3 separate regions of the Homo sapiens genome follow, and regions 1 and 2 are each linked to region 3. The links come from fine-mapping of genetic effects on gene expression. A gene starts in region 3. Each other region holds a variant in brackets. All regions are shown on one strand. Distances are from middle to middle.

Region 1 (11,158 bases), 45 kb before region 3:
TAGATTAAGGTTATGTTAGCATTCACAGCCACCACAGCTCATCAATCAGAAGGCTGAGCCAGACTTCTTCTAGGTCAATATTAACGATCTTGCAGTATCGTTATCTGAAGTAAGTGGAAGAATACTTTAATTTGTAAATCTAAGCTCATCAAATAGTTTTTCCTAAGACATGCAATACAGTGTTACTGGAGGAATAACTAGGAAGCCAAACCCAGGTGTGCTCGCCAGTAAACTGACTTTCATTATGGATATTGAAAGAGAACTTCACTTTCTCAGCAATGGGTTTCTAGAACTGCATTAAAGACATGTGGCATAAACTACTAAGTGAACATATCATGAAAACATCTGAAGACAACAATAAATTTTTAAAGGCAGATTTATAGAAAAAAACACATGTAAAATCTATCAAAGGCACAAAACTATTTGGGACAGTCATCAAATTTGGACTTCGTCAATTTCGCAGTAAGCCTTATAACAGTTTCTCAATCAGTATATCCAAGGAGATTATTGAAATAGTACAAAAGCAATGACTGAGAAATGGTGTCATAACATTTTTTTAAATAATGAGAATTCTAACAAGTTATCTTTGAAGTTTAGAATAGATTGCTACAATTAGAAAAAGATGGGTATCCATCATCCCACCCTGTCATATTCTGACATAAATAAAAGGAGGATGAATTTTAAATTACCTCTACTCATGACAGTTTTATCCTAGACAAAGTTCTCGCCACAAAACAGAGGGTGAAGGACTTCTAGTAGAGCTATAATTGCCATAATGTTGATTAAATGTACACTTAATGTGGCGAAAAGCTTTTCTGTGGCATGGCAGAGTCTTTCTAGTGCTATTTAAAAACTCTTCAAGTACAATCTTCTAAAAGTGGTACTTTGATGAGCAGTGCAACAACATACCTGAAGTTTCATTGCTATATAAAGCAGAGTTGGGAACGGTAAAGAAGTGAGAAGTGTGGGCGAAACTGCCTTATGTAGATTATCACATTACACATATAGTCCTAGTTAGGAACACACAAGCACACTAGTTTTATTTTATACTTACAATTTGGTTTTGAGACCAAATATTATCAATTTTATTGAATCAATTCTAACAGTATCTCATTTACTAGGCCTGGCTCCCAGTGACATTTAGCTATTTTCCCAAATCATATACCTGTGTTTATGTATGTATGTGTATATATATATATACACATACACACACACACACACACATATATATATATTCTTTTTAAAGTGATAAGTGTTGCCAAAATTAAAGATGATCAGAAGAAAGTGCTATTAGACAGAAAGCACTTTCCAAGCAGGAGGCCAAGTGTGCTTTGAAGGGCAGAAGACGTATGTATTTGTAAAGAGTGTTATTATTTAAAATAATCAGTCATTACTTAATATTAACACATTTTATATTATGATGTATGTGTGAGATTGTGTACACACACACACACACACACACATACATGCACAGCTACATGCTTCCAGAGACATCTCTTTTGGTATTATCAAAATGATAAAGTTCATATCATGATTCTCAGAGGCATTTGGAAGAGTTAGAGGAGAAAAGAAACAGAATGGTATTCAAAGCCATAAAACTGTGTCAGGGGATCACTAACTTCTTCTCCTGTGCCCTCCAAGACCACCCTAGATTTTTCTAGATATAATATTGAAGGAATTGTGTCTAAACTTTTTAAATGGGTACTAGCAGTAGCCAGCAAGACAAACAAAACCTTTCTCCAGAGCAGTGGAGAAGAAATGGTAACAGAAAGCTCAACCACTAGGCTTTGAGTGCTAGTTTAGAGAGCAGAACACACTGTCAATTGACACTTGCCTTTGACAATTTGAACAGAGTCGGGTCACCTGACCTCAGGCCTCATACACAGCTTAGTAAACTGCATTGCTCCCCAAAGAATAATTTATCTTTCCCTTTTCAGAGTACTAGACTTCACTCCAAAATGAGGTAACTGAGACTGGTCAACTGACTTCACATGAAAGAATTACTCTTGAGGAAGACAGTCAAGAATAGAGAATTTAGTCACAGAGGCAATTAGTTTACATTTTATTCTACTTGCCATTTGATTAAGTACACGTTTACCTAGGGAACAAGATGTTTTGCATGGCAACTAACAATGCAAACTTAAATTTTAAAGTATATATTTTTTATCCTAATGCTAATTCATTTTTCATAATCTGTTTTTAGTAAAATTCCTGTTTTTCAAAGTAGAAATAAAAATGAACAGTAACATGCAAAGTTAAATCAAGAATGAATGTCCTCACATATCTTGGGTCACAAAGACCAACATTCCTAAACAAAGGACCACAAAAAGGCATCATCCCTGACAGTTAAGCCAGGAGTTAGTATACAGATGCTTTACAAAGTGAGGTATTAACTCTCAGTAAAAACTGTATTACACGTCAACTATACGTCACAAAATAAATGTTCAGTAAATCTCTAAGGATTTATTTTACTAGTCTCCATTGACAAAACTTGCCAGAAAATACCAAAGCACACAATTCACCTCACAAAGAAGATACATGTATATATACGGCATTCACTCTTTACTGAAGTGAAGAATTTTAAAACTAATGTCTTTATGGCAATGCCTGCTTATAAAAGATACTCTGTGTAAAAGAGCCAGGAGATCCATCACCAGTGAAATGAGTATCCAATGAGACCTATCGTGTGCTCAGAATGTGGGAACTCAGGAATTGAAGACATGGTCCTAGGTCTGACAATCACATTATAAAATAGCAAACAAAATGAAGACATAATCTAATTGAGAGCTATATTGAATGTTACAGATAAAGTGGTGGAAAAGATTAGAAGTGAAGGAGATCAGCAGTCTAAAACAGTTACATGTAAGATCATAAAATGATCCTTAATATTGGCACTAGAAAATGACAGACTGGAATGAATAGACAAAGGCAAAAATCGAGAAATGTGTGTACAGTATATCTATGTGAAAGTTAAAAAGAAATCGCTGTTTAGATGGAAGATGAGACCAGGTTATCATAGTTTTAGAAGAGGAGTTTAAACTTCATGCAGTGAATGTTGGGAGCTACAGAAGGCTTGTGAGTAAGAGGGAGACAACATGAACACATTGTTTGTGGACTACCCAGCCCAGATAATTCAAAGTTGGTCGCAAGAGGGAGAACCTAAAGCCAAAGTTAACAACTCTGGATTCCTCTTTTATTCAACAAAATTGGATAGTAAATATCAGATAGTTTTTGGTCATGTTTTCGGTAAAGGACAAGCAGAGTATAACAATTATTTGTAAAGCAAATAGCACATCGGATAATATACAACAATGAGGCTGGGTGCAGTGGCTCATGCCTGTAATCCCACCACTTTGCAAAGCCAAAGCCAGCAGATCCCTTGAGCCCAGGAGTTCAAGACCAGCCAGTTCAAAACCCTATCTCTTGAAAAAATACAAAATTAGCAGGTGTGGTGGCACACACCTGTAGTCCTAGCTAGTTGGTAGGTTGAGGTGGGTGCAACACTTAAGCCTAGGAGATCGAGGCTGCAGTGAGCCATGATTGTACCACTGCACTCCAGCCTGGATGATGGATTGAGACCTTATCTCAAAAACAAAAATGAACACACACACACACACACACACAGAAACACACACAGAGAGAGAGTGAGATTATGAGAGGCTGGAGCAAAATCATAGCTCTGGCATCAAGTCTTTCAGATAACATGTTAGACACAGAGCTCTATACTGCAAGTTTGAAAGTGATGCTCATCTGGTTTCATAGGTACCACATATATTTGTTGATCTATATCACATATATGTCTTGATCCATATGTGGTTTAACTTTCAATGTAAGTTCTCAATATTTTATCTATACCTACTGAAATGCTTGATTGACTATCAGGCATGCCTTAGACAATCAGAAAATAAAATTTTAATTTTAACAAAGTAAATATATGCCTAACAAAGAAAAGGATCAAACAATACCATAAAATGGAAATTATCAACCTTTTATTTAAAAACAGTAGAGAATTTCAATCGAGTAGTGTTCAAGTATTGAGTCAATCTGAATTACACAGAGCCTTGACCAATATTTATTGCTACATGTTTTAGAAGCAATTTCCATTTTGATGGGTTGCTTCAAAAGTGGTATTCTGAAGCAGTTAGGCAACATAAAAATATAGGATCAAGATTATGTCTGTCAGATGAAAAATACAGCATTTATGCAGCATTATATAATCCATTCGCTGGTTTATGAGCCCAAGGTCCCCATGGGAGTGTCGCAAACCCACATAATAGCTACAGGGTTATATTTTGCATTTGAGACTCCAAATGAGCAGCAAATACTCTCTAAAACCACAAGTGTAACTAGAATACTTGTACTTGGTACCATAAAGTAAGTGCAAAATTGTAAATAATTTCAATCTAGCAGCTAAAGATGTCCTTGTTTTGGGTGATGCCAACATTAAAATATGTGCACTTTTCTTCCAGTTATGTCAGTCCCCCTCAATTGTTAAGATACATACAACATAAATCAGATGGTCAAATTGGGCCTATGAAAGAACAGTTACCAATGATTCAATGTCAAGGAAGCCTACTACAGTGTTCCCCAAGGATGAGGCCAGTATTTCTTAAACACTCGAGCTAACTGCCTTCAATAAAGAAAAACACATGATACTTAATTTCAAACAGGACATGACACCAGGGATAGCTGGTGTGGCTAACTCAGGAATGGACATAATTGTAGTTCAAAACAATAGGTTATATCTTCAATATAAATTTAAAAATCAAATAAAGTATCGGTATACATTTATACATTTATGGGGAAATAACACAATGGACTAGCAATCTCCAGCAGCAGAAACAAATGTGTCAAAAAGCCGTAGAGCTGGGTGAGAATCAAAAACTAATGCTGTTTTGGGATAGAACCATTTGTAAAAAGCAATCTAATCTAGATAAATACACACAATATATAAGATGTAATAAAGCAGTTATATAATGCATTGGCATTTAGTATGATTATTAACAATACCAGTCTAGTCTAGGCAACAGTACAGAACACATTTAAAAATATATAAAACAGGATATATGTAAATATTAAAGAAGTCTGAATTATGTAATCTAGAGAAGTAAAAGTTGAAAGGTGGCTCAAGTATATATAAATATATAAAAGATTATTTTATGTGTATTTAATTGTGGCACATTTTAAAGAGATGGAAAAGAATACAGTGTTGCTAAGATAGAGATATACCAAAAATGTAATTTTGTAATTTTAAAGTCATTGGAATTTGTGTGTGTGTGTTGGGGTGGGGGGCATTCTTACCTAACAGGCCTTCTCATGATTTTTTAAACTATAAAACATTTTTTAAACTATAGATTTAGTCCACACCAACACTGCAGATTTTACCAGACAGTATGAGGAACTGACTTCCGACTTAACATTTTTCAATATGCTGTTGGGTAAATTATCAACCCAAATAGTCTTTCAGTCTTTTGCTTAGAGTGAGGATCATGGGACTCAAAAATAAACTTTTTCCCAAAGGAAATGGACCGTTGGCCACTGACCACAGAATTAAGAACACTGTGCACTTTGTTTTTAATATAAGACTAAATTTATCTTTCAAATTGATGGGGTTTCTAGAGGTCACAAACTGACAGCCTATGTACAAAACACAGACTGCACACTGTTTGTAAAATCTTTGATTAGTTGCCTAATTTAAAAAATTGATACAATTACATTAAAATGGGGTATCTGCTGTATCTTGAAAAGAAAATAAAGAAAAGAAAATATGGCAACCCTCTGCCTTTATTTTCACAAGTCAACAATCTGCTGATGCTTCATGGTGACAAACGAGGAACAATCTTGCTACCTGTCCTCCTTCACTCATTTTTAACCAATCTAGTTCCAGGAGGCACCTGAGTTTGCCATCCCTGGTTTATAAGGATGGACATTTTCATACTCTGCTACTTGATGTGACCTATTTTAAACAGTGACTTTAGTATGCCTAGACTATCTTACAACATGTTAATTAATCCAAGAGAAACTAACACCAGTAAGTCAGAGAGTGGCATCCTTCCATGAGTGGTTATGCACTTCAATTCAGCCAGATTTAATTTGGTTAACAAATATTTCATGTTACCTACACTAAAATGGATTAGTGGCAATCAACTTTCTCTTTTCAGGAATTGAGGCAAAAATTAACCCTTCTGAGCATTAAAAACAAACAGAAAGCAGAGTGGAAGTTGTGGAATAAAGAGGAAAATATGTGCTATAACCAGGGCCAGAGGAATTTGCAATTAGAATAAAGAACAAAAT[G/C]TTCTGTCCAAAGAAAAGACAAATCCAAATCTTTTTAAGTTTCTTCCCAAGGATTCTCTCCAAGAAGTGAAGACCCAGAAGCAAGTTCATCTTTAAAAATTTTAAATGCTCAATCAAATCTATCTTAAACATTTGTTTTGTTATGCCTAGGGAAAAGATTATTTTTCTAACATTACTGTCTTAGCAAACAATGATAAGCTTCACAAAAATAAAATGTTCCATTTTGCTTTATTACTGAAAGCTATGAACAAAATTATTAAAATTAAAATATGAATTGAAATATTTTATAGTCCTAAACTTGTTTAAGTAAAAGGATTTTGTATTGTCATTTATTTGGATAAAATATTATACATAGGAACATGATTCAGTAAGAAGCAGGCATAGGGCCAGTCTTTCTAGAAGCATCCAGGAGATTAACTGGAAGTACCAGTAGGAGGTGTTGGTCCCTTTCATAGTTAAAATTATTTTATAGCTAGGCTCCTAAGTAAGGTGTTAAAAACAAGCTCAACAATATATAACAATATGATATTAATGTATTTTCTTCTAAGGAGCTAGAAACATTTCATATGCTTCAAACATAATCTATTTTTATGCATGGCAAAGATGCTAATAATGTTTCTTCAATTAAATGAAACAGTCCAAATTGAAAGCTATGAGAGTATTAGGAAAAGATGTTTAAAAAGTTGTCAATCTATTATAGATTTCTTTCTACTGAAGATTATGATTCCCGAAAGGGTTTGAATGTCTATTCCTGAAAGGTAATAGAGGAGACAGACTTCTATTAATGTTAAGTCCTCTGACATTCAGTCAGTGAAAATAAAAGGAGAAAGCATTAACTTTTAACAGTGGAGATGTTAAAAAGAAAAAAACAAACGAGCAAATTCTAAATAGCTGTGTGGAGCAAGGTGACTCAGCCTAGTTTAACAGAGAACGAAAATGTAATCAAATGAAACCTACGACCTCTGTACCAGAGAGAGTGAGGGAGACAAGAAGGCAAACACAATTTAAGAATCTGCGAAGAAAAAGTAAAAGAAGTCACATATGTGTGCAACATTCTGCTCAACCTTGATGCAATAGGTGGTCCCTAAAAGAACTGCAGGTCTAAAGAGAGTCAGGCAAGCGCCTTGGTACTTCCTTTAACCGCAACTTCAGCATCTTCCCATGACCCATTTTCACCTAAGGAAACTGAAGGCAACTCCAGGCAGCAGGGCAGAGTGAACCAGAGCTATGTGAACTGGTCACCAACCACCTGAAACCACACCTCTAATTTCCAAGTGAAAGCAAATCCCCTTGACTTTTGCCTCAACCTCTAAGCAGATTCCACAACTGGCATAGGCCCTTTATCTAGTCAAGAGTGGGATGTAGGTGTGTGTGTACCTGTGGTGTGTGTGTGTATCTGTGTGTGTGTATTCAGTGGAGTAAGGGATAGCTAAAACGACCAGAGGAGTGAGGAGCAAGGGGTTGGATCCTGAGGAGGAACTGCAAGAGTGAGAAGGATTAAGACAAGAAAAAGGACAGAGACTGGGTCCCATTCTCTCACTTTCTCCAGTGCCTAGCATAGGGCTTTGCACAATATAAAGACTCATGAGTGAATCAGCAAAAAAGCATATCTGTTGAAATTATATGTTCACTTTACAAAGCATTACAAAATGTGAATTATCAGGGAAGGACTCCTTTTCCCTCATGATGATCACAATTTAAAGGAACCAAAATTAGAGTAGTTACATCAATAAAGAAACCTACAGATAACATACACACACACACTTACGCACAAACACACACAATAATCATTTGGGTTAGAAAAGAGAACTGAAAAAGAACACATATGTGCTAGGGAATACTAGTAAAAACAAAACATATTACTTCATAACTGGGAGAAACTCATTCTTGCCAGTGGGATTTTTCTTCTTTTCTAAATATATTAAATATCATATTGGAATATATCTGAGGTGATACGAAACATATGTGTTAGATGGTATTATAAACCAGAAGGATTAAATACCACATCAAACAAACTGAGCCACATTACTCTGTATTTCCTTTCCTTAGCTGTTCCGGAACTTTAGAAATAATACAGGTAACACAGGACCTGTACTTCTCAGCCTTTCTTTTGAGAGCTGTAAACAAGTCTTTCTCTCTTTTCAGCTTGTTCAAGGGAAGAGCTGGAGCATCCAGCAGCTCTCTGCCACCATCTCATGCCTAGACGGGGCTGCATGTTTTATTTCTATCAATATTCTGTAGGTCTAGGTTTGGTGGAGCTTTTTATTCTGATAGTGGAAGGAACTACGTCATATTCCAAGCAAAGATGCATGCTCACCAGAGACAACAGCCATTCAAAATGTTTGTTTTGCCCCCACCAACTTGGGATAGAATTTTTTACAAATGACAAGGGAGAATAAATGCTTAAATCAATGTTTCTCATGGTATGCTCTATGGAACACTGGATTATACAGTTAAATCAGTTTGGGAAATGTGTACTATAACCTCCTCTTCAATATTCATAATACCTATTAGCATTCTAGGGGCTCTAAGAGGTCCTATTGTAAAGAAACCCAATTAACCATAACCCTAACTTACTTGACAATGGAATCCTCTCTTTTACAGGATGGGGCAAGCAAGAAGGAGGGTGTGAGGGATGCAGGGAACTGCCTTCTCATGACATTTTTAGTAAAACACAGAACCAGATCTTAGAACTGGATGAAAACATAGAAAGTGTCAATCCAGTCTCTTACTTTACATATGAAGAAACTGAGGTCCAGGAAAGTAAAGTCACTGGGACAAGATCATATAGCCATTATCTACATTAAGAGCAAAAATATTGGCCATGTCCTTTAATGGCTGTGCTCAATCATTTTACTACTTCACCAAACAAAGAAAATGTCAGGTTAGATACTCCCCCAATCCTACCCTGTAAATTCTCTACCTCCATCATCTTACAGTCCTTCTTTTCCTTTCTAAAAATTGTGTTAGAGATGGGGATCTCGCTATGTTGCTTAAGTTGGACTTCAACTTTTGGGCCCAAGCAATCCTCCTGCCTCGGCCACCTGAGTAGCTAGGACGACAGGTGTTCATCACCACACCCAGCTGTTCTGACCTCTCTATTTCATAGGCTAGCCCTTTCTCCCAGGCCCCAGACTGCACTTTCCGCCCCCCTCCTTTGAGATCTCATTGTCTCACATATCCCTTGCTGTTTTGAGCTCGGTGTCTCTGTCTCTTCTGACATTAACTGTCAATTTTCAGAATGTCCAAACTTTATCTTTCTTCATCTCAAACTATCACCACAGTCACTCTTTTCCTTAAATTCCTTAGAAGGTGTCTATATTTGACATCTCAACTTCCTCAACTTTCATTTGCTCCTCAATCATTAAATTCTGATTTCATTCTTCCCTACTTGCCTACAAAATTTTCCCACTACTTAATCCCCCACCCAGCAATGTTCCAGGCACATGGAACTTGTGATTTGTTATTGCCTCTTGACTACCTAATGCCCATCTGCATCTCTAGCTCATGTAAAATGCACTTCCTCCCTTCCTCTCCCCACCTTCTCTTATTAGTGATGCCCTCGGCATCATGCCTCTGCTCAAATATCACCTTTCCTAAGAAAATCATCCTTGATTCCTTAGAGCTTGTCATTTCTTCAGTCAACATGCAAAATATCTTACACACACACACACACATATTTTAACTCATGTAACCATAAAATTTGTTGTCCAAATCAGCACACATCTGAAAATGAAAGACTATTAGTAATTACGTTAGAACAACAGGTATGAACTGTGACCATCCTGGGCAAACTAAGATGTATATTCCCAGTAATTATAGCACTTAGTAGTTCACACTGTGCTTTACTTGTTCACAAGTCTGTTGTCTACCCAACAGACTGTAAGTTCCTCAAAGACAAAGACATTTTCCCACCCAGCAAAATGCTTAGCACATCTTGGATTCTTAAAAAATAGCACGGCCAGGCACATTGGCTCACGCCTGTAATTCCAGCACTTTGGGAGGCCAAGGTGGGTGGATCACTTGAGGTCAGGAGTTCGAGACCAGCCTGGCCAATATGGTGAAACCCCAGGGTCTCTACTAAATATACAAAAATTAGCCGGGCATGGTGGCATGTGCCCATAATCCCAGCTACTTGTGAGGTTGAGGCAAGAGAATCTCTTGAACCTGGGAAGTGGAGGTTGCGGTGAGCCAAGATCATGCCACTGCACTCCAGGATGGGCAAGAGAGCAAGACTCCATCTCAAAAAAACAAAACAAAACAAAAAAAACAGTGTTTTTGGATGAAGAAGCTGAATAAAGACATGAAAAGAAACAGTGATCTAAAAAGAAGAAGACTGTTAATGGTAACAATAGTTTCCTAGGTAGGAAAAAATTCTTAATAAGAGCAGATGTTAGGTGGTATAACACAATCATATATTTCAACAAAACTAGGAGTAAATCTGGTGAGGTGCTTCTGAACCTCAGAGTGTTTCCTGGTACCCCATGAAACAGACTAGAAAAAAGTAAATGACTTAGAAATTAGCAACCTATTCTACCTGTTTTCCCACCTCACAATCGTTTACTTATCACTTAAGGCCCAACTTTAATGTCACTTTCTTGGATGAAATATCGCTGCAAGTATCCAGGAGTTATTTGCCTCCTCTTTCATATTCTCAGAGCACTTTGTGGAGATTCAACATTAATTTTGAGAGAGTGCCAGGAAAGTTCACATACACTGTGTCACTTATTCCTTCTTATAATCCTGTGAGATAGTGTTATGATCCTCATTTTGTTTTATTGTTTTTGTGTTGTCTTGTTTTGTTTTGTTTTGTTTTTTTAAGAAAAAGTCTAGCTCTGTTGCCCAGGCTGGAGTCCTGTGGTCC
Region 2 (11,158 bases), 120 kb before region 3:
GTGAGAGAGGAGCTGCCTGTGCTCGTCCCCATGCTCACTCATTACTGGCGATGTGTACTTCCCAAAGGATTCACTGGATCTTGATCCCAATGAATTTTTAGCAGTACTGTAGGAAGGAGGGGTCAGAGCCCTACTGGACTGGCTGCTGAATTTCCTTTGCTGTTCAGAGGACATTAGCTGCTTCGTTGGCTTAAATGCTAAGGATGATGTTTCAGCACTTCTGTCAAAGCCATTCCCCCGATTTGTGTTTGAAATGCTGTTGTCGGGCATTCTGTACATAGGACTCTGTGTAGATCTCTGTTGGCCATAGCTGTAATTTCCATAACTGGAGTCCATATCTCCTTGCCCTGCCATGTAGAAAGCTTTCCTTTTGAGAGAACTTGCTGAACTGTTTGTCAGAGCCGACGGTGCAATAGGTGTCAAACCATGGCCCTGGTAGGTGTAGCCAGGAACAGTGGTGGGGGGTAGGGGGGTGGGAGCAGGAATTCCTGAAGGCAGGTACGCTGAAGGCGGAGGCGGTGCCCCCCCAGGGCTGTACCCAGACCCCACAGCAGTCTGAGGAGGATAGCTAGCAGACGGATAGCTGTAACTGGAGAGGTTAGAAGTCCCATTGTAGCCTGGGACCAAGGCTGGTGGCGGAGGAGGTGGTGGTGGGGGCTGTAGTAGCCCAGAGCTATGCAAAGGAGACGGATGAGGTGAAGGAAGTGCAGGTGCTGGCTGGCTACTATAAGTAGAATGCAAATATGATCCGTTGTATCCTGGGGCATATTCCTGAGATGGGAGCCCTGCATGAAGACTGGGTACAGTGTGGCTTCCACAGGTACTACTTGAATAACTAGGTTCTGTCAGGTTGCTGGCTACCCCAGGAGAGCTTCCTATACTCGCAGAGACATCTGCTGGAGGGAGGGCTGAACTGACTCCAGCTTTGCTGGCAGTGATAACATCCGGAACACAGTTCATGGGATAAACAGCTTCTGAATTCAAGGAAGGCTGCCAGGGTTCACTTTCATTTTTCCGACCGTTCACTAGTCCTGATGGTGTGTCCGAATAGTTGCTGAGTACGGGTCGGTCCACAGGACCTTCCAAAATGCCGGAATACTTCTCTGCATATTTTTTTAGTAGGTTGGATGCAGTCAGAGCAGATATGTCATCATTCGCCCAGGCGTACTGATAGGTGCGCTGCAGATGACCTCTGTAGGCTTCAACTTTGTGGGCAGGAGACCGAGTGGTTGAGGTGATGTCAAAGTGCTGTTCTGGCCACTGGGCATGCTCTGGCGTCCACTGCATCTTCAAGCCTAAGAATTTTGGGGGGAAAAGAGTTAATTTACTTAAATAGGCATCAGAACTCTTAAAGCTTTTCCCCCAATTTCTTTTGTTACCTATTATTTTCCATTAATGATATGCATACTTTAAAAGATCTACACTGTTTATAATACCTATTATGATCCCTATAATAAGTACTCTTTAAAATGGACTAAACTTCAGCCCTGTTTAAAAAGCACACTGAGTTTAAAATATAACTCTGTAGTTACCTATATTTTTTGCATTTGTAAGGAATAAGTAAATCTATTTCTGTCAAGCCCATCAGCTTACCTACTATACGCACATACACAATCACATATATATGTACACACACATTCCTGTCAAATTAGAATTCAATCATAGGTTCTTAAAATAAGCAGACATTTTAAATATCTTGCACATGGCAGTATTAACATGTACAATATCTAGCTATTCTGTCTGTTCACATCACAGTTTGTTTTACATTTTAAGCAATATAAAAATGAGACACAGCTGACAGATCACATCTAGGATACCTCTCTTATTTGGTACTGAACACCTAGTTAGCACAGTATAATGCTCCCTGCGCAGAACAATATGACACAGACATAGCAGGTCATTCCATAATCCAACTCTCATCTAAAGTGGTCCACGACAGTTTCAAATCTGCTTCGTGGAGTGCAGCAAAGCAATCTCCCAGGCAGCGCTCCATCGCTTTCATCGCACAAAGCCTACAACTCGGTATGAATTACAACTGGCTCCTTTCTGCCTCTCAGTTCTGTTGTTGAGTCTCTGAAAAAAAAAACAAGCATCACTTGTCTGTCGGTCTTCTAGCGTTCTCCCTCCTTCTCTTATAATCCCTCCTCCCCTTACAGCCTGCAAGGTACTAAGAGGGGAGAATGTGTGTGTGTGTGTGTGTGTGTGTGTATTTATACACATCCTGTCTTATACATCTTCATATATATATATATATATATTATATATGAGAGAGAAAGAGAGAGAGAGAGAGAGAAAGGAAACTGAGGGGAAAGGGAAGATAAGAATGGAGAGAGATTCTGGATTCTAACTCTTTCAATTTCTATAGGAAACCACGTAGGGCATACGCTAGAGGAGTACAAGTAGATAATGAGATGGTCTGGGTAATTCTATCATCTGCTGGGTTACTAAGTGAAGCAAAGTTGACTATGTAGCAAACTACAAAATGAGCATTTTCTCATTTAAGAAAAAAATACTAAGCAGTCAGAATAATTTGAATTTTAAATTGTAAAGAGACTTTAGAAATTACTTTATTTCACAGATTAGGAAACCAGGGCCCAAAGCGATTTATAATGTACCCTCGAGGTCTCACATACAGTTAGTTACAGAAGAGGACTGGTACCCTGTTCTCCTTTTTCCCATTGCTGGCTCATCTCAGTCTAATCTCTGCTTGGTTTAACACTTCCTATTCTGGTACAGCTATATTAAGCATCTCTCCTTCATCTTTTTTGTATTACCCAAAGTGAATTTTGCAAACTGTCTTGTGCCCTCTGGCAGAGATGCCTTGATAAGGAGGAGGCCTGGTCTACATGAAGCATCTGTGGCATCAACCCCCTTCTGAATTACTACAGTCTATTTTGTCAGTTTCTACCCCCTTCTGTGCTCTTCCTCCAAGCTCTGTGGCTCTTCATTGCCTGACTCTGGCTTCTGACATGGCCGGCTCTGACTTACTGCGATAAACTGAACATAACACACAGTTTGGTAACAGAATGGCATGTTGATTCCCTTCTGACTCCCTCTTCCTTGTTTGCAAAACCACTGCACCAGACACTGGAAGTTAATTAGCAGGATGATGCTGTGCTAATTGTGTTAATTTACAAGGTTTTAGTCAAAGAGAATCATGCCAGGGCTGGCACTGCTGTCATGCTTCCGACTTAATGATTAAGAAATACTGAAAACAAGGTGGGAAGGATTGCAGTAATTACACAATAAATGAATAAAGCAACAGGATTCATTTGCAAATATATTTTACTGCAATTGTACTCATTTGCATTTTGATTTTTAAAAAGGATCCATGTAGATATTCATTTGCAAATCACAACTCAGTTAAATTAAGTCTGAATGCTGCACAGTGTAACTTAATCAACCTAAATATATGTATATACATATTAGTAAAAATTCTAAAGACCTCAGTTCTCTTGTACATGCAACAGATTCTTTCTTCAATTTCCCTCAACTACCCCCAAAATTCATATTTATGTTTTAAAACTTTATATATTATTAAATAATCTCATTGAATGGGAAAATAGTATTATAAAATCCTGATGAAATGCAGCTTGCATCATTTCACTCAGAGAAACTCTGAGGATGAGTTCCAGGGAGAACTAAAGTGGTATTCTTAATTATTTCTGCTTTCTCAATCATTACTTTTTAAGGGGGAGGAAAACACACCGCAAAATGGGTGAAATGACCGAAACCACACTTAAAGGGGAAAAGCTGCAATTTTAATGAAGCAGCATTTCAGGAATCATACTTTCATTAAATTCAACTGGAAATTATTAAGAGCAAATCACCAGGAACCAATCGCAAGTAATCAGTATCTAAATGCTTCTAGTGTCGTGGGATTTACTTCAAGCCTTATAAAAAGGAGAGAATATTAATGTGACTGTAATGTAGAACTGTCTAAGAGACCTACAAATTCATTAGTCCTGTAAATTATTTCTAGGGAATTTCTATTATGGTTCTTTTCTTTAAAATATTATCAAAATACAGAGTAGAGAAAATAAGAACACACATATGCTGTGAGTATAAATGTGATTAGTTTGATACAGAAAAACGTGAAAAAAAAAGTCTTAAAGGGCTCAACAAATAATTTAGAAGTACAGGCAATGGAATTTAGCACAACACACACACATACGTACGCACACATAAGTTAAAGGACGGCTTCCTTTCAGTTTGCTGAGCTAAGCCATTGTTAGCATAAGTTAATAAACATACATAACAAATATTATAAAGAAATATACTTTTTAACTCAAATGAAACTGCTTATTTTTTTAAAAAAACACAGGAGGTGGGAACCCCCCACCTGTATTAGCTTAAGTAATGTTTTCTTGTAAATATATTATTCATACAAGAGATGAAAAAATGATTTTAATAAGTTATAATCACTGTAAAAGACAGTAGTATACAGTTTAAATAGAGTGTCCATTTCATAGGGTATTTTTGCATGGTTTAAGTCTAGCAAAACTAAATTTCGTAAGATTTCTTTTTTACCTGAAATTAAGCAAAGATCATATTTATCAAAATTATCTATTTGGAACAATTACTGGATACACCATTGCCTTTTGATTGTCATGCTATTTTTGGATGTGCTTACAAGATAATTGAAAGATTATTTATTGATGCATAGTAAATAACAATAACCTTTGCAGAGCTGCAAAAGGCAAAATTGTATTTTGTTTAAATACAAGGCAATGGACTTGTTCATATCCCCTGAAACGAGAATTTATCCAGTGCTTTAAAATCATTAATGTTATTTAAAAGCATAAGCTAATCTAACCACAAACTAATTCTTGATATTAGCAGGAGCTGAGGAAATCAGTGTTCAGGAGATTGTCTTGGCCTTCGAAGTACAGAGCCTTTTGGTTGGTTCCTTGAATTTTAACACTAACTGGAAATTGGTAACCAAATTTATTTTTTTGTTGTTATTGTTATTGTGTTTATTGGTGGTGCTATTTCTGATATGAAATGGAACAAAACCACAGAGCCAAATGTTTTCTGAACAACAAAAACATCCTGCTTTGTTTGACTGTATTGCAATTATGTG[T/C]GAGTCAGAAGCAATACACCTGTGTCACTTAACTTGGCACTCAAATAATGGGTTGAGTTTTAAAAACAGCTTTTATATGGTTTCTCTTCAGAACATGGAGATGGATCTCAGAAACAATACTATTTTAACATTATTAGAAGCATGACTTTAGAACAATAACTCCTACTGTTGTTTGGAAATAGTTTAAATAGGTACAGTAAAAATTCAGAAAACAGTGGAAAGTAAGAAAAATAGTTTTTAAAGATAATTGAAGAATTGTTGCAAAACATCAATTTTTACTTTTGAAAGGATCAGAAAAATCTTAATACAGCTGGCAAATTTCATCATGCAACGTGTTTTTTGAAAATACACAATCTAATAGAAAATTGCTTTTAAGATAATTTAAGTGTTACATAGGAATGACAGGTACTAGAGTAAAACATCTGAGCATTGTTCTTATTTTATTGTTATGGGATGACTCCATGTATATATAAATGAACAAATCCATATTTCCTATATAACTGGATAGTACGGATAACATTTGCCATTCTTACCATTACTGACCATTTGATAACTTAGGTTTAATTACTAACCAGTTACTGCCTTGTTGCTTTACTTTTTCCATTTTGCTCTTTAACTAGTTTCGAAACAAAACAACTATAGCATCCTCTGAAGTTCTGCCACAGCTATAAAATTTTAAACAGTAATATAGAAAAATGAAGGGTATAAAAGCAACTTTCAAAATGAGAGGAAAATTGGAAATAAAAGGTTAGGTCTTCTAGAATCTGTTTTTAGCATATATTCATAGAAATATCAATGTGAGGCACTCACTACCCAACCCACTCCTTATATACGTGTACTATTCAACAGTTCATCAGGTCTAAAATAGTTACTCCCTTTTACAATGTTCCCATAGGGTAATTTTGGCTGCTAGGGGCTCTGCCTTCATTTGTAGGTTTTCTCAGACTTCCTAAGGGCAGGGACCTGAGGCAAACACCTGCAGGCATGGCAGGTTTGCCTGCTCTAAAACAGATGCATAGCACTCACACAGGCCTGCATGACAACATTACTACACCTATTACATTTCTTTGAGCTATTGCACCTCTGAACCTTTCATTATTTTTTAACATTAAAAAAATTAATATAATATTAGCAAGGGTTTCTCTGAAAAACAATCACTACTGGGGTAAATACTGTAAAGTAATTATAATACTTTACAGCCTCTTCTTTCTGATGCAACAGATTTATCATCTCTTGGGTTGGAAATGGCAGAACTAACATACAGAGCATTCAAAATTTCCAGTAGAAAGTAGAAAATTCATTGGCTAAAAATACAGGTCTATGCAGTGAAGAACCTTCTGAAAGAAGGATTGTACACCTCCTGGCACTGCAAACTGGCCCTGTGCAATATCTACTTATTATCATTCTTCAATGGGAGTGATGACCAAATGAAATGTTTGAGGAGACTAATGCAGCCTTGTCTACTCATCCTCATAAGCCAAGAGGCCAACACAGCATTATCTAGTATTACTAGTACTAACTCATTTGATCTGGAAATTTCTTCAGCCCATTCCCCGATCATTCTTGGCTTTAAAATATGGCATAAAATCTACAAGTAACAGAAAGGGAAAAAAGTGAGGAAGAAGCACTGAAATTACGTATCATTTTTACCTAATTTTGTTCCATCTTTAGAGGACCAAAATTAGAAGATTTTATAAGCTGAATGTAACAGAGGGGCTGTCAAATTTTAAATTTAGTCAATAAAAGATGAACTATGTACAAAGCATTGTGGTTCAATGCTAAAAAGGAGGATCCATTTTCTATAAGGTGATGAAACCTTTTCAACTCTCTTTTTCACAATTTCACAGTCTAAATTCTCCAAAATTAGACTCTTTGATTTTAGAGATTAACAGAACTTTAAAATGACCTAACCATTCCAGACATCCTCACTTTTCGATTGATGTTTCACTTATAATGATGTCTTATAGGATTGGATACTATTTTGCATAATATAGTATTTTATTTGGAGCCATTGATAGATTGTTGGGATAGAAAGGGACTGAAGGAACATAAAGAAGGTTCAAGAATTTTGTTTCACGGTGAAAATTCCAGCCTGTAGAATAAGACCACTGGCAGCATTGCTTACATCATCACTTATTTATTCTAATCTTGGTTAAGTTGCTTAAGCACATCATACTCACTCAGCTGTGATATGTGGACAATAATGGTATTATTTCACCTTACTGTATTGCTATTAAGATTACCTGAATAATATTTTGTGAAACTATTTCCCAACTGTGAACTGCTACACAAACATTTCTTAGTATTCTTTTATTTTGAAAAGGCCAGGGGTGCATTAAAGACAAAACAAAACAACACTGGCTAGACAGAAAAAAAGTAAAATCACTCCCAGAATTTATAAGTCAGTTTTCCTTCAACCTCAGGACAGCAACTGTAAATGAAATTTTCCAGTGGGACTGTTGGTTCCAAGAAAGATACAGAAATTCTCTCATTCTGAGCAAAACAAAGAGCATAATCTCTTTAATCAAAAAGGTGTCAACATTTTCAAATGTTTTCAAAGTATTTTATTTATTTTTGATGTTTCCTGTGACTCAACATTTTAGAGATTAAAACTAAGAAATAAAGTACTTAGAGGTTGAAGACTAGTTAAAACTCATTTTAAAACCTGCAGTTTCAAAATAAGATATTCTAATTATATAACAATACTGTCAAATACTTTTTTCTCTTTAAATCATATTTTCACACCTCAAGACTCCAAATTACAATACATTTTGCAGCAGCCTTCTCAACCCATTCCATTGTATTTGCATAAAACAATGCTTTTTTTTTTTTAAACAATTATGAAGGCATTTCTGGCTAAATGGGTCTTAGTAAATATAGTTCAGATACCTCACCCTCTTACAGAGAAATTGCAATCTGACAGCCTGAGGGTAACATATACCCTGCAACTGTGTTTGGTTTGGCCAGCACAGGGCTTTAAAAATCACTCGACTTTATGTTTTAAAAGATCCGTCTCAAAAAAAAAAATCTGTATTTCCATATTTCCCATTTTTCAGACAAGATCTTACAACACTTCATTCGTGCCTGGCAACAGCTGTCCGATTCTGGGGACCAGCTCCCTCCTTGGGGCATATCCTACCCTTTCCACTTTGTCATGGTGCTCCTACCCCCTGACAATGTCAGGTATTTTCATGGTATCTACCAGGTCACACAGGCATTTAAATTTAGGACTCCACTTTAGAGCTTCAACTCCAGTTTCTTAACTTACATACCTTTTCTTGAAATCTAGAAAGTATTCAGCTCTAAAAGTTAAAAACATTTTCCAAATACTTTTTTTTATGATAAGAGAACCTCCCTACCCTCTTACAACACAACACGTGGGAAATAATTGATAACTTTCTTATTGATACAGTGTCATTAGTACAACAGTGTGGAATGATGAATAATGAATGGTATCTTAAAAAACTGGTCTCAGATGCTGTTTCAGTGTTCCCCCTTTTGCTCTAATTTGTCAGATATTATTTTTTGCTATTTTCCTATCCATTTTCACCATTCCTAATGTGCTGTATGTTTGATACCACAAACCAAAGCTTAATTTAACAGTGAGTGAAGCATCTCCTATTAGTTGAATACACGAGCATTAGTACAACTTTTATAAGGTTATTTAAGCTACTCCAAAGTTATGCTTCTTATTTCCTACAGAAAGTTGTTGGGTAGATGGTACGCAGGTAAGCAACAGATCTTGTTGTCTAAATGTCTTTATTTTGGGCTTCATAAAAGCCTGTATTTAATGTTACAGGCACCATGACTTGGACTAGGATGGTATTAATATATACTCTGTGTTTAAACTAAACTTGTAGGTAGCTTATGATCTGAATTGGGTTCTCTACAATGCATTAAATTGTATCCATAGCAAGAAAATATTCACCCAACAAATATGACCAAGTGTAACGGTGACTATTTTTGCCAAAATTTCATGTGGTGGATAAAACTTGATATGCATGGGTCTGATTGGTCATTATTTTTAATATGCAATAAAATGGCTTGCATTTATGAGAATGAATGCATAAGCATTATGCAAAGCAAATTACAGTGATGAAAGAAATATCATTTTTAGACCACTGAGCCTAGATTCACTATATGATCAGGACAGAAACCATATCATTTAAAGCAACCCAGGAAATCATGATCATAATTCAAACAAGTAATTTTTCCCTTAAAATTTCCTATACTTAAAGTATACAAGTGAACATATTATCATGCTCACACACAAATCCACATAGTTTAAAATTATAACTTAGATCTATGATTTCTGTGTGGGGGTAGGGGGTAGGTTTTGTAAATGTTTCTGTGTAAAATTTTTGAATAATAATCTAAAACCAAGTAAAAAAAAGTGTACAAAACTGTGTATATTCTATGGTAAGTTATTCAGAAGGATACATGAGGATGCGTGTACATGCAATTTAAAATATACAAATAATTCACACTCTGAATCTTCCTAAGTGTCAGGTGTCATTAACTATTGTAAGGGAAAGAGTCTGAGGTAAAAGGGCTGATTTTCCCATATTTAAAAACTGTTATTTTGTTTATGCTACCTCTGTGAATTTTAGACAATTTATAATCAGTTTAAATAGCACTTTGTAGTTAACCTTTAAAGTTGTTACTTTGCAGCCTTTCATTTCTTATGCCCTCTCTTTCCTTTTTCCGTATACATTTTTCAATCCATTAAGGCCATCTACCCTTCCCCCCAGATCATCAGGACATACCACGTATGTCCATAGGGACTGCAGTGGCTAATGAATATGTATGTTCTGTGTCACAACAGAGCACTACCCTTGTTCTGCAGTATCAACCCTCTTATGTGTGTAAATAACAGGTGAGCTGTAGCATGCAGGGATAAATGGGGTTAACACAACCTGAGAGCCCCATGCTATATTCATAGCATCCAGCCTGTATGATTGATCCATAAACAGAGTACTAAATGCCAAAAGTATTTTGCATTTTCTGAGTGTTTTGAATCTTTATTTTTTAAAATATTTTGCAGAGATAATAATTATCATCATCCTAAAAGTCTGAGGTTATTCCAGTTGATTCTCAAAATACTGTTTTGCCGTACAAAATATATTTGCATTTTTATTTAAGAAACATCTGGCATGATACCAACCTTGAATTATGACATGGCTAGTATATTTCATCAATCATAATCCTAAAATGGTATACTAACCACTAGGTGCACATATAACTCTGTGTAAATATTTGTGTGTGTGTGTGTGTGTGTGTGTGTGTTCCATTTCAACTATCTAAATGCAAAGCCCAATTTAGTTATATTTAAACTGAACTCTATTCATGTTTTGCCCAACACACCAAGCTGAAAACGGTCAATAAACAAATTAAGAAATCTTCCAAACCCCACAACCTTGCTTAAAATGAAATTTGCATTCATCTACTTCTCTGTGTTCCTCTGGAACCATACTCTAAAAAGACAGTTTACATAAGACAAAATAGATATATAAGTCTGCTTATGTAAGATTGAGCACTGTCTCATATAATTAGACAAAAGAGTAAGAATGTTATTCACATGTTGAGGGTAAAACTGTTCAACCATTCTCCTTAAAAACTTTGCTTTAGGTGACTCTAAAGTATGCAAAGCCCAGACAAAATTTGTTTGGGTTATTTATGCATTTTTCTCTTTTTGGCAATTCGTGCATTAATTTTTAATGCAATAGCAAAATAGTGTCTTGGACTTCGAAAAAAAATTCTATAGTCAGGGCTGGGTGACATAGTGCATTAATTCAGTGTCCTTCACTCCTGGGACCTGTGTATAATTTAGTCCAGCCTGAAGAAAATAACTTTGATATGAAAGTAGTGGAAAAAGCTACATATGAAATGAGTTTTGGTAGGTTACGTGTTGTTTTTTTCCAAATAAGACGTTGTAAGAAGATAAACTGATTTAGAATACAACCAGCACAGCCTAGGATTAAAAGTGAGAAGCTCTTAGCAACAGCAGTAGTTTCCTCACCTCTTCATTTTCCCCACCCTGCCCCCTTCTAGTGAAATAGACCTGGTGAAATAGAC
Region 3 (11,158 bases):
GCTATTTTACTTTTTAAAATAAACATTTCTGAAAGAAAATTGCCATTTAAATGATAACATCAAAAATATCAAAAAGATTAGTAATCAGCAATCATACCAAAGCAGCTATGCTTAAAATTTCTGCCAGAAGTTAAATGAAAAAGTTAATGCTAAAAATTCAAGTTTAGGAAAAAAAGAAGAAAATGACAAAATCCAACCATGGAAAGCACTTGCTAAACTGGCCATTTATTTGCAGTGTGTCAAAAAAATTCTTTCATTTTCAATAAACAATAATATAGGTACAATCTCTCTCTCTTGCTCCGTGTTTGTGTGTGTGTGTGTGTGTGTGTGTGTGTGTGTGAATTGAAAGGCAGAATTTTGGGACTTGTAAGCTTCTAAGTGGTACCCCCAAATAATTTCTAAGTTCAGTTGATTTCAATAAAACACTAGCTCTTGTATATCTCAAAAGAAAGACACATACATTTATTTTTTATTGAGAGTTAAAATTTATAGCTTTTTCTGAACCATTTGTTTATTCTAGTTTATCAATGACTCAAGAAAAACAGCAGATATGCTGATTAATCAAGTTCTATCGATCAGTAGCATATGTCAATATTTCACACAAACATCTGCAGAATAGTTTCTTCCAATCAAAAATTTATAAATCAATTTAAATTCCTGGTAATTAAATTTATTTGCTCTTCAACAATGAACACAGTACTTTATAAAGAGTAGTATGTGAAATCTGCACTCAAGAATATATTGATCAAAGGTAAAATAGCACCTTTCTATTTCTATTAAACCAAGGTTCTAAGAACTAGAAAGTTCAAACCTTAAAAGCCTGCAATTGTTTCAAATACATCTAGTAATTCTGTTGATTTTGGGCCACTAAAAGTGATTACTTAATTAGGCAATCATTCAAGGCATCCAAACACTCACACAGACAAAAACAGGGAAGTATTAGCATGGCTGTCTTCACCTTGACATGAACATTCTGAAAAACAGTGCAGACTCTCAAACTTTGTGGATCTGTCCCTATGAATGTCCTGAGTAAGATACTAAATTCTAAAAGGTGACAACCAGAAGCTCAGGAAAAAATAATTAACCTATAATGAAATTACCCATTTATCTTTTCAGGTGGTTTATATCTTAAACTATCTTAGAAATGCAAAGTAATAATACAGATGGTCTCTATAGATTCTTGGAAATACTACCTATTTTCTTCTCTCTGGTTACACTCTTATATTATCATCTAAAAGTAATTAATGAAATTTCTGCACTCTTGTATATCTATCAGAAGTAACTACCTACAAAAAGGTTTTCAAAGTTCCTGCCTAACATGAATAAAAACAAAAACAAAAAATATTTTCTATTTATGGGAAGGAAAAAAATATCAGCCCTGGAAACTCAGCTACAGGAGTCTTAAATATAACTAAAGAATAAAACCCCCTATTTTCACTCAGAAGATATCAGATACTGTTTTAAGAATCTTACTGATGAAATACAGCCAGGAGAAAGAAAAATACTCTATTTTCAGAAAAAAAAAAAAGATGTTTCTTGAAATAATTCCAAAGAGACCCTATAAACTGTGTTTTTAGGAGAAGAGAAAAGCAAATCAACTCACACATACAGCTTCCAAACAGAAGTCTTACCCTCTTCCAGGAAAACAACAATGAGACTTTATTACCCTGCTATGATTCTTTCATTTCAGACATGATTAATTAGCAAGTATTACACTTCTCAAAACTCCCACCCTACTCTTCCCTGCTTATTTGATGATAGACCCACATGAAATAACAAGTTGCCTCCAGCAGTGTAAGACAAGTATCCAAAAACTCTATTTTAAAGAAGAAACACTTCTTTCCTATCTTTGCCTCCCAAAATGAAGCAGGCTGCTTCTAACTGCTTTCACAATTTTGTTTCAACTTGGTCATTTTCCTAACAATACCTTTTCAATTTTAAATAATGCATACAACATATTCATTATTCAAGAACACATAGCATGTTTAATCTGATACCTCTATTTTTAAGCTGAAATTCCAAAGGACTTATGTGTCCATGCAGTTTATATTGATAACCATAAACATGCACAATTAATAAACAATAGAGACGATGTGTACAAGCATGTTTTGGGACATGGTTTTTGTAGAAATAATGTTTCTTTTCCAAATAAAAGCTAATTTGTCACAAATATAATGAAGATAAGAAACAAGCATGAAGGAGTAAAAGAGAGGAAGAACAGAAGAGGATAACTAAAATTTGAATGAAAAACTCTTGACTCTCTACATATTCTTCCAAAATAATCTTTCAAAATAATTTTCCTTTTGAACAATCTGTGTTCAAAACGTCCATTCCATGTGCACCAAGAAGCCAGCCATCACTAAATATATTATAAATGTATATTCTAACAATCATCAATTTATAAAGTCTGGGATTTCCCCTTCAACCTTTCAACTGTTACGTCCAGAAAACTTCACACATAGTGAAATCCTAATAAATAGATCTTGTTGGTTCCAGGAAACATTTTTAAAAATCTATACTGGTCAAAATATCCTTGCTTTTTTTCTGTTGTATTAAATTTAGGATCAAAAACATCAAAGCAGCTTCCACCTCGGACCTAACTTTTAGAGGATCAATGTGACAAGGCAGTCCCTGATAGATGTTTCTCTTGATAAACGACTTGTTCAAAAGAGACATTGTAGCTTTCATTTCCTGACCACAACACACTTTTAATTTGCAACAGCAGAGCTGCCAGAGTGTGAGCACTTGCCCACTTTCTAGTCTTTTAGGTTTGTAGCTCTGGTTCCTTTAGGCCGCACATTTGAGACAAACAAAATCTAAAAATAATCAGAGTAAAGAATTAGAAAACAAGAGCCAGTAACGCCACTTTATACATATACACAAGTGTCTACTTTATATATATGTATGTAAACTTTCACCCCTAGAATTCTAATATATGATAACAAGGCTCCTAAGTTAACATCATTTGCACATCGGACATTTAAACATAGGGAAATGAATTATGTGACTATTATTTAATAGTAAGCAGAGACTTAAGAGGGGGGCAATTTACACACTCAAATCTGCTGTTAAATGTCATGAATTATATAATTGCCTATGCCAGTATGTTTTTCATGAATTATTGCAATGATTATTATTAGTACTACCTAGAAATCACATTTAAGTATCAATACGGTGAACAGTCAAACCATCCAATTTCTGCTCTCAGCACATTGTCCGAGCTCCGATTTAAAATTTATAAATGTAATATCCTCCTCATCACAGGCAGCAGCCCAATCTGCTCTGAATATATATTACAGCTTTAACATCACAGAGGGAAATCGCCCATCTGGCAATCCCATTCGCTCCAACAGCTCCGGGGGAAAAAAAGCTGTGCTCTCTCCTCCTTAAAACATTTCTCAGGGCAAATTATGTGCATCTAAAATAAACAGTCTTCTTATTGATCGCTTCAAAGTCAACAAGTTCCAAATGCAAAATTCAATCAAATCTTTCCTATCGTGTAAGTGTGGTGTGTATTTAGCTCAATAGTCACCAGAGTCCAACCAGACGTGTATGTCGCGCAACGGGTCTTGTAGTTCCTCTCTTCGTATTCACATTTGTGTTAGGAGAGAGCAGTGACCACGGCCACACTACAGACCCCTGGCAGCTTTGCCCCACTGTTATTTCTTTTTTCATATTCTCTCTTTCCTTCTTTCTCTCTTTTCAGGAGGAATTAACGGTCATGGGGTAAACATAGCAACAACCAAAAAAAAAAAAAAAAAAAACAGTCTAAAGTGGACATATCCTTTGGTTATGCAAAATACTTTAACATCTTTTTGTTGTTGTTGTTCCCTCTGTCTTAATTGAATATTACAAAGTGTACACAGGGCACTGCCACAAGAGCTATTGAAAATCCCCTCTCACTCCATTTAACTGACTTTTTTTTTTTGTAAAGAAAGGAAAGAGCGATTTCAAACGAAGTCAATTTCAGTGCCTGATTATTTAATTCTGTCACAAGTTAAAAGTAAAAAGCGCTGACAGGCAGACGAGTGAATGGAAAGGGGGAAGAAAAACCTATCCCTACTCTTTAAAAGACATCAAGGACTTTGGACAATCAAAATATAATTTTTATTTTCATGTAAAAGACACCTCTTCACTTACCCGCCCCCCCCAAAAAAAAACCACACTCAGAAGAACTGATTACTCCACAAAGTGCAAACATCAAGAGCAGATAGTCAAACTGCATTAATAGATTGAGAAAAATAAAATTTTCATCCAGTCCTGTTCCTGTGTGTGTACATATATATAGATACACTTTCATTAGTTAGTAATCTTTCCCAACACTCCTGCCCTCTCCCCTTTGCCCAGCCTCCCTCCTTCAAAAAAAAAAAAAAAAAAAACCCACACTGAGTTTAACTAATTTACATACTATTTGACTTCAGCAGTTATATATATATAGTGCATTACTAGTAACGTGCAACTTCTGGATGACAGCTAAAACCGATAAAAGTGGATTCAAGTAATATATTAATCAAAACTGCAATATACAAACAAGTGATAGCAAAAGAAAAAAAAGCATGGTGACATTAAACATATATTTTTTAAAAAAAGGAATTCTATATCATGAGCAACTGCTTGCCAGGCAGTCTTCAATGGTTTTATCATGCTATTTCATTTGTCTTTCCTATTTAGATGCAAAGGAAGTAAATTCCAAAACTGACATACCATAAACACTGGTGCTACTGATCATTTCTTGCTGGCAGCACAAAAAGCTGAATTGGATTTCTCACAAGCAGGAATTCCAAAGGTTGCTTTTCATTAAAGCCACTTTTCCTCTCAGCTATCAAATGTCACTGCCTTGAAACGTGGGCCCTTTCGTCAGGTATTCATTTAACCTACATGCATATAATTAAGGGGGAAAGCAACATCAACAAAAAGGGGATCTCAGATCACAGGAGAAGAAAGAAAGGAAAAAAAGCACATGACCAGGAATGCAAGTCCATGTCAATTTCACTCACTCCCATTGAAACTAACAAGAGCTCCGGGGAGGACGGTAATAGGATCAGTGGATTGTATATACCATTAAATTATACATCTTTCTCTCCCGTTCCTTGCCAACAATACGCCCACCACGCTGTACCCCCTCCTAGATGATGTGCTTACATTTTTCTGCAACCGATCTTCTGACATTTTCTCGTTCCCCCAGCCACGAGATTGTAATTTAACCTCAACTTTTTGTGTGTGTGCAAGATTCTTATTTACACTTCTTATTTACTTAGAAGTTAGTTCCCGAAGAAAGTCTAGCCCCACCCTATGGCTCCGCTTTCTTATTTTTTTATTTTTGAAGTAAAAAGATAGTAATAAGTAAGCCCAATATAGCGAAAAGCGAGATTCTTGCAATCGCGAACTCTTAATCCCATACTATTGTTACAATGATTAAGCAGCAAAAATATGCATTATAATGTTTCAGGGCTACTTTGAACAGAGAAATTAGACAGCAGGTTGGCGTACAGAATAGAAACGAGTGGAAATTGAATTTAATGTTTACGGCACAACTGAAGATCTCTTTTAATTACAGGTCTTGGATGTATTTATATTCTTTAAAAATAAAACAAAAACAAATTTAAACAGATGGTAGAAAACTACGAAGCTCCTCTTACCTGAACGCGCGGAGAGAGAACCCGATAGGTTAGCGTAGCATCGATCCGATGTGTTTGCTGATGAATGGAAGCTAGGGTTAAGTGAAGGTGCCTATGATTTGAAATCATTCCAAGTTTTTGAAGGGAAGACGGACTGCAGCCTCTGCCATGTTGGAATTTCAAACCCAAAACAGCTGCTTGGAAGGAGCCAGCATGCCAGAGGCTGGGCGCAGGCGCAGAGCGCCGCAGAGCCAAATTCAAATCACTTTCACACTAAGAGCCAAAGATCAGTTTTCAAAGGAGAGAGGGAGAAAGAGACGGAGGCTGCCGTGAGGGAGAGAAGACGGGAGGCAGTGGCGAGAGGCGGGCAGTGGAGAGAGACGGGCAGCGGGAGGACCAGGAGGGAGAGGGAGAGGCGCACGGAGCCCGCGGAGCTGGAGGGGGAGAAAGGGAGGCGGGAGGCGAGCCGGCGAGCGAGCTAGAGACGCGCCAGAGATTCATGGGCAGGGAGGGCTCAATGGCCGCGCCGCGCCGGCCGGCCGGCCGCTCGGGTCATGTTACACGGCCGGGGCCGCGGCGGCCGCCCAGCCTCGCCGATGCGCTCACGCGGCCCGGAGGGGGCCCCGAGGTCATGATTACGCGCGCGGGGACTCGCAGCTCTCCCTGCACGCACTCTCTGGCGGCCCAGCCTGGGGAAAGGGGAGCAGCGCCGTAGGGGGAAGGGGGCTTTCTTTCCCACGCGTGACCAGCCGGCCCCTGCGCTCCCCGGCCTGCGTTGGAGGGCCCGGGACAGAGCCGCGCTGCTCCCCGGCCCGCGGGCTCTTCCCTGCCGGTTCCCGGCCCTCTCGACAGCTGCGGCCCGTCCGCCCTTCCCCACCCCCTCTGCGCACGGGACGGGATCTGGTCTCGAGAGCCTGGACCTCACCGGCACCCTCCCCGGGGCCCCCAGCACCAGCCAGAAAACGACTTGATCTGCTTAGAAGAGGCAACTTCGGGGAGAAAATTCGCGTTCGCCCAGTTCCCCTCCCCCGCCTCCCTGTGAATAAATAAAATCCTAAGTGTCTAGGTGTGCGGTCCCCTCTCGCGCTCCCTGGCTCCCCTCCCTACCTCCCCCAGGCGGCTCGGGCTGGAGAAAGCAGCGCCCGGGGGGCCCTGGTGTCGGCGGCTGGTGCGCAGGCATAGACGTTAGGCTTCTGCCTTCCCAACCCCCCTCTATGGAGTAATCTGGGGACCCAGGAGTGGGAAGAGAGTAGGGGCTTTGTGGTGCTGGGAGCCGAGGAAGAATGAAATGTGCAGTTGAGTGTGTTGCTCGCATCCCAGGGAGCAATGCAGTGCTGATTGTCTGTTGCTGAGATAGCCTTTTGTTCGGAACATAAGGTTTAAGAAACACACACACGTTTTCTGGGGTCTCTTGTTAGATGTAAATGTGCGGCATCCAGACGCTTACTATGCAGTGTAAGCTCAGTTGGTTTACTAATCACCCCGCCCCACCCGCAAACAATCAGGATCATTTGAATGGGAACCTCATTCAGACTTCTAGGCTGAGAGTATTGCCTTCAACCTATTTCATTCTAGACTAGCCAACCATCCAACTGAGATAATAAAGCAAACAATAACATTTGATCATGATGTCTACGAGATAATGTGCCCGGCAAAGTTCTTTAGGAATTGTAATGAGAAAGAGAGTGAATTGGGTCATAATTTCTCTTCGTTTTCATTAAATATGACTTTAATAGATAAATGGTGAGTTTATACTTTGGCCTGGTAGACATCCAGTCTTCTATATTTCAACGAAGCTAAGAATGAAAGAGGCAAATTATATATTCCACCAGGAGCCCATCAAGCTGAAAATGTTACCTTTGAAGGTTGGAACCGAAAATGCACTTGCTGAGGACTGACCCTCCTCATAAGGGTGTTCACATTTCCCCCAGCTTCTCTGTTGTAGATTTGATAGCCTAAATTGCAGCTCTCCAGATGCTGAAATGCAGCTCTTTAAAAATGCCAAATATATACTTTGAAATTAATTCCATTCACCTTTTATGATGTTCTTACCTTTGAATGGATGCCTTTAGCTAACACACTGAGAAATAAAAATTATTTCAGTTAAATCTAGGCAGATGACAGAATTTAAAAGACAAAAAAAGAGTGATTCGAGATCCTAAGAAATATTTCTAAGCAATGAGATTTCTATTTGGAATGGATTTGACCTTTCTGTGAATTTTTTAAAAAAGGAGTCTTCGAAATAAAACAGAAGAACTTTATTCTGATGTAACAGAGAACACTGAAACCTCTTTAGTTATATTTTACAAGATGGCTTTGAAAATGATATTACGAAAAGTTGTTCATTGGATTTTACCACAAAGAAATAAGTGTAGGGAAATATCTGTGGGTCACTGTTGGATTGAGTACAGATGAATTAAAAAAAAAAAAAAAAACTGTGAAGCGCTCATAATCGCAGTTATTGCCCATTTGGGGAATGACGACCAAAAGTCCTCTGGACACACAGCAGATGCTCTGTGCAATTCGGGCAAAACTGCTCTGTTCTTGTTTGTTAAAAAAGTTCAGAGCTCATCAACCTTTAACATTAAATCCTAGCGTTGAATTTACAGTTCCTTGTGTAAATTCAAATAGTGAATAAAATATATAATACAGTGCCCACTGAATATAAAAACAATGTATTTTGATGACAGACTTAAAGCCATTCATCTGTAATATCTAAAATAAAACAACCCCTGCTCTTTAAAAAGAGGAGGAAAAAGTGTGGTCAGCAAGAGTTTATTAATAGATAATAACTGTACCTTTCCAATTCCCTTATAGATTCATTTGAAATACACATTATAAAAAAATCATTCAACATGCAAATAAATATAATTAACTTTGGAATCAAATAATTGGAAAACTGTTCAAAAGAGCACTGGATAGAGGTACAGAGTTTCTAAATTGTTCAAAATTACATATACTCTGGGAATAAAAGACACTTACATAATAGAATATACATTATGGGACTTCCATAATAATAAGATACACAGGAGAGTTCGTCATTGCACTATTTCTCCCTTTTTTTTTAAGTATAGGTAAAAGTTGCTTTTCTCCAATTATTTTAAGCAAAGGAAAATAAAACTTGACTTTCTTTTCCACAGAGATTCATGGCATTGTTTGCGATGTTCAGTTTTTGTTGTTTTAATAAAACTATCTTTAATTATGTGGTATGATTAAAAAGCACTTTAACAGTCATCATATTCTGTATGCATTTATCTTCAAAACTTTTAATCAAAAGAAATGTTTCTGGCTGTAGCTGACATCCATCTCTATAATATCTTTTGAAACTTCTTGATATAACATGAGAATTAAATATTGAGTGTTTAAAGGAAGTTGATTGGCTAGTCAGGGAAACAGTTATTTCAGAAAATAATAAATTTGACTAATTTTTCCCACTCTATTAGCAATATCATTTCTCTTTCTATTTTACTTTTTAAATGCACAGACATTATAATGCATAACATTTTGACTAATATGTGAAATTCTAATACACAGTATACTCAAACTTGTGCTTTTTAAGAAAATCAGAAGAAAAATCAACATAACTCTTCTTCAGGAGTGTGTGTGTGTATGCCTTCCTTTCAAGATAATTCAGAGGGGAATTCTACTTTTTTCTGCTTTTTCTTCTCAAAATAATGTAAGCAACAACAACAAAAGTGAAGGTTAAGGGAATAAGCAAAGTGATACTGAATGTGATTTTGCAAATGACCATAGACTTGTCTGCACTGGACTAAGGAAAATATGAGCTAGGCTGGACACAGAGATGTGCTTTACCTAAGTGATGGGAGAGGAAAGGAAAGGAAAAAAAATCAGTGGAGGCAGAAGGTAGACAGCGGGTAGAAAAGATGAGGGAGATGTAGGTCACAAGATGCTTTAAGGAAAGAAGTTTGGAGGGCTATCATGTATAGTTTTTCATAAAATGCTAAACGCAATTCAATTTAATTTTTCAAATATTGTTTTTTAGTTTTGAACTTAAATGTTAAATATTTTAATAAAACATTAAACTAATAATATATTCTTCCAAACTCCTGGGTTTCAAAACACATTCTAGAACTTAGTAGCTGTTTATGAAACTAGACTTTTTCTTTCATATTACTCACAAAAATCTGAGGTAGTTCTTACAATAATGCAAATTAGTGACAAGATAATTTTTTAATGCTTCCATAAAATTGCAGTATAAGGGTCATGATTTTCACTTCAATAAAGTTACTAAGAAGTCCTTATGTACCACCCTTTCCCCTAAAAAAAAAAAAAGAAAAAAAGAAAGAAAAAAAACCACAAAAGCTAGTGAAGATCATGACCTCATTGAGTAAAATTACTCAATTTGCTCAGAATGACACTCAAATGCAGGTACTGTCAAAGGATATTAGTGTGGTTCATACATCTCCTCAGTGATCTAGCTCTACAGTAGAGACAAACTGGAAAATCCTGTGATGGGTTCACTTAAGATGTTTTGCTTTCTTCTATTAACCTGAGTATTACATTTTTAAATTCACATATATTTATAGTGTGTGTATATTTGCTGGAACTTTTGCCTGATTTTGCATGGTTCTCAATTTCATTTAGAAAGTATTCAATGCTTAATATAATTAAAAGTACTACACTACAAATTGCAGAGGATTTGAAGAAAAGTGACCTTAACATTTTATGGATGAAGCCAGATAAATATAGCCCAAAGTGAATGATAGAAAGTGCAGTTATAAAGGAGTTCTGTCTAGAGGAAATTGTGAGTTCTTTTGTGAAGGACAGGACAGTTTTTCTAGACTTTGTCACAGCAATCTATTCTTTTTTTTTTTTTTAATTTTTATTTGTTGCAGAGAACAGATATCACTCTGTTGCCCAAGGTGGTTTCAAACTTCTAGACCGCAGTGATCCTCCTGATTTGGCCTCCCAAAGTGCTGGGATTGCAGAAGTGAGCCCCCACACTTGGCCTTCTCATAGCAATTGTTATGCACCAATAAAACAGACCACTTATAGTTTGCATAAACTGTGCTGTTTTTCCTCTCTATGCCTTGCTTGACAGTGTGCCCCCTGCCTGAATTGACTTTTCCTCTCCGCTTCTGTGGGCGAACTCCCTTAAGACACTCAGCACTTAGCTCCTCCAACCCACACCCCAACCTTCCTAGAGGCACTTAAGTATCTTTCCCCTGTTTGGACTCTATTTCTCTTTCTCTCTTTGTACCCTCACATCATTTTAAGGGTGTTCATGTCTTTCACTCCTGCATTAGATTTTGAGCTTCTTGAGGGCAGGCAATTATCTTCCATCTTTGTTTTTCCTCCATGCCTAAATTAATTGGGATAATTCAACATACATGCTTACTGGGGAAATTAATGAATTGACAAGTAGAGGAAATAGATATGAGCAAAGACAAATTGAAAGGAAACTGTAGAAGTATTTGCCCAAAATAGCATATAATCTAGTTTGGTTGACCCTTTGCTTTCCACAGGCACAGAATGGGAAATAAGGATGGAAATGAGAATTGGGGATGTATTGCAGAGGA

Direction of the effects. Alleles are on the strand shown, and positions count from the first base shown. SD is a standard deviation of normalised expression in the study named. Not every link is listed here.
For the expression in subcutaneous fat of the gene that starts at base 5,810 in region 3, C is the low allele of the variant in region 2 and T is the other (moderate effect, 0.42 SD a copy in TwinsUK).

What was found. PIP is the estimated chance that this variant, and not a neighbour inherited with it, causes the effect.
Region 1: its variant is fine-mapped to the expression of FIGN in visceral fat (GTEx, PIP 0.92).
Region 2: its variant is fine-mapped to the expression of FIGN in subcutaneous fat (TwinsUK, PIP 0.95).

Annotation. Positions count from the first base shown.
Region 1 is chr2:163,685,573-163,696,730 of GRCh38, forward strand. The region is part of intron 2 of FIGN (fidgetin, microtubule severing factor); the gene reads right to left. LOC107985957 (a long non-coding RNA gene) reads right to left here. Exons shown (of 2, transcript XR_001739759.2): 2 at 1-11,158. Among named protein-coding and RNA genes, the nearest start is that of FIGN, 45 kb to the right of the region's middle. The variant G/C (reference allele first, on the strand shown) is at 6,295.
Region 2 is chr2:163,610,512-163,621,669 of GRCh38, forward strand. FIGN (fidgetin, microtubule severing factor) reads right to left here. Exons shown (of 3, transcript NM_018086.4): 3 at 1-1,295. Among named protein-coding and RNA genes, the nearest start is that of FIGN, 120 kb to the right of the region's middle. RefSeq lists an enhancer at 11,013-11,158. The variant T/C (reference allele first, on the strand shown) is at 5,084.
Region 3 is chr2:163,730,199-163,741,356 of GRCh38, forward strand. FIGN (fidgetin, microtubule severing factor) reads right to left here and starts at 5,810. Exons shown (of 3, transcript NM_018086.4): 1 at 5,640-5,810; 2 at 4,705-4,874. The coding sequence starts at 4,729. LOC107985957 (a long non-coding RNA gene) reads right to left here and starts at 3,743. Exons shown (of 2, transcript XR_001739759.2): 1 at 1-3,743. RefSeq lists enhancers at 6,417-6,933, 6,934-7,449.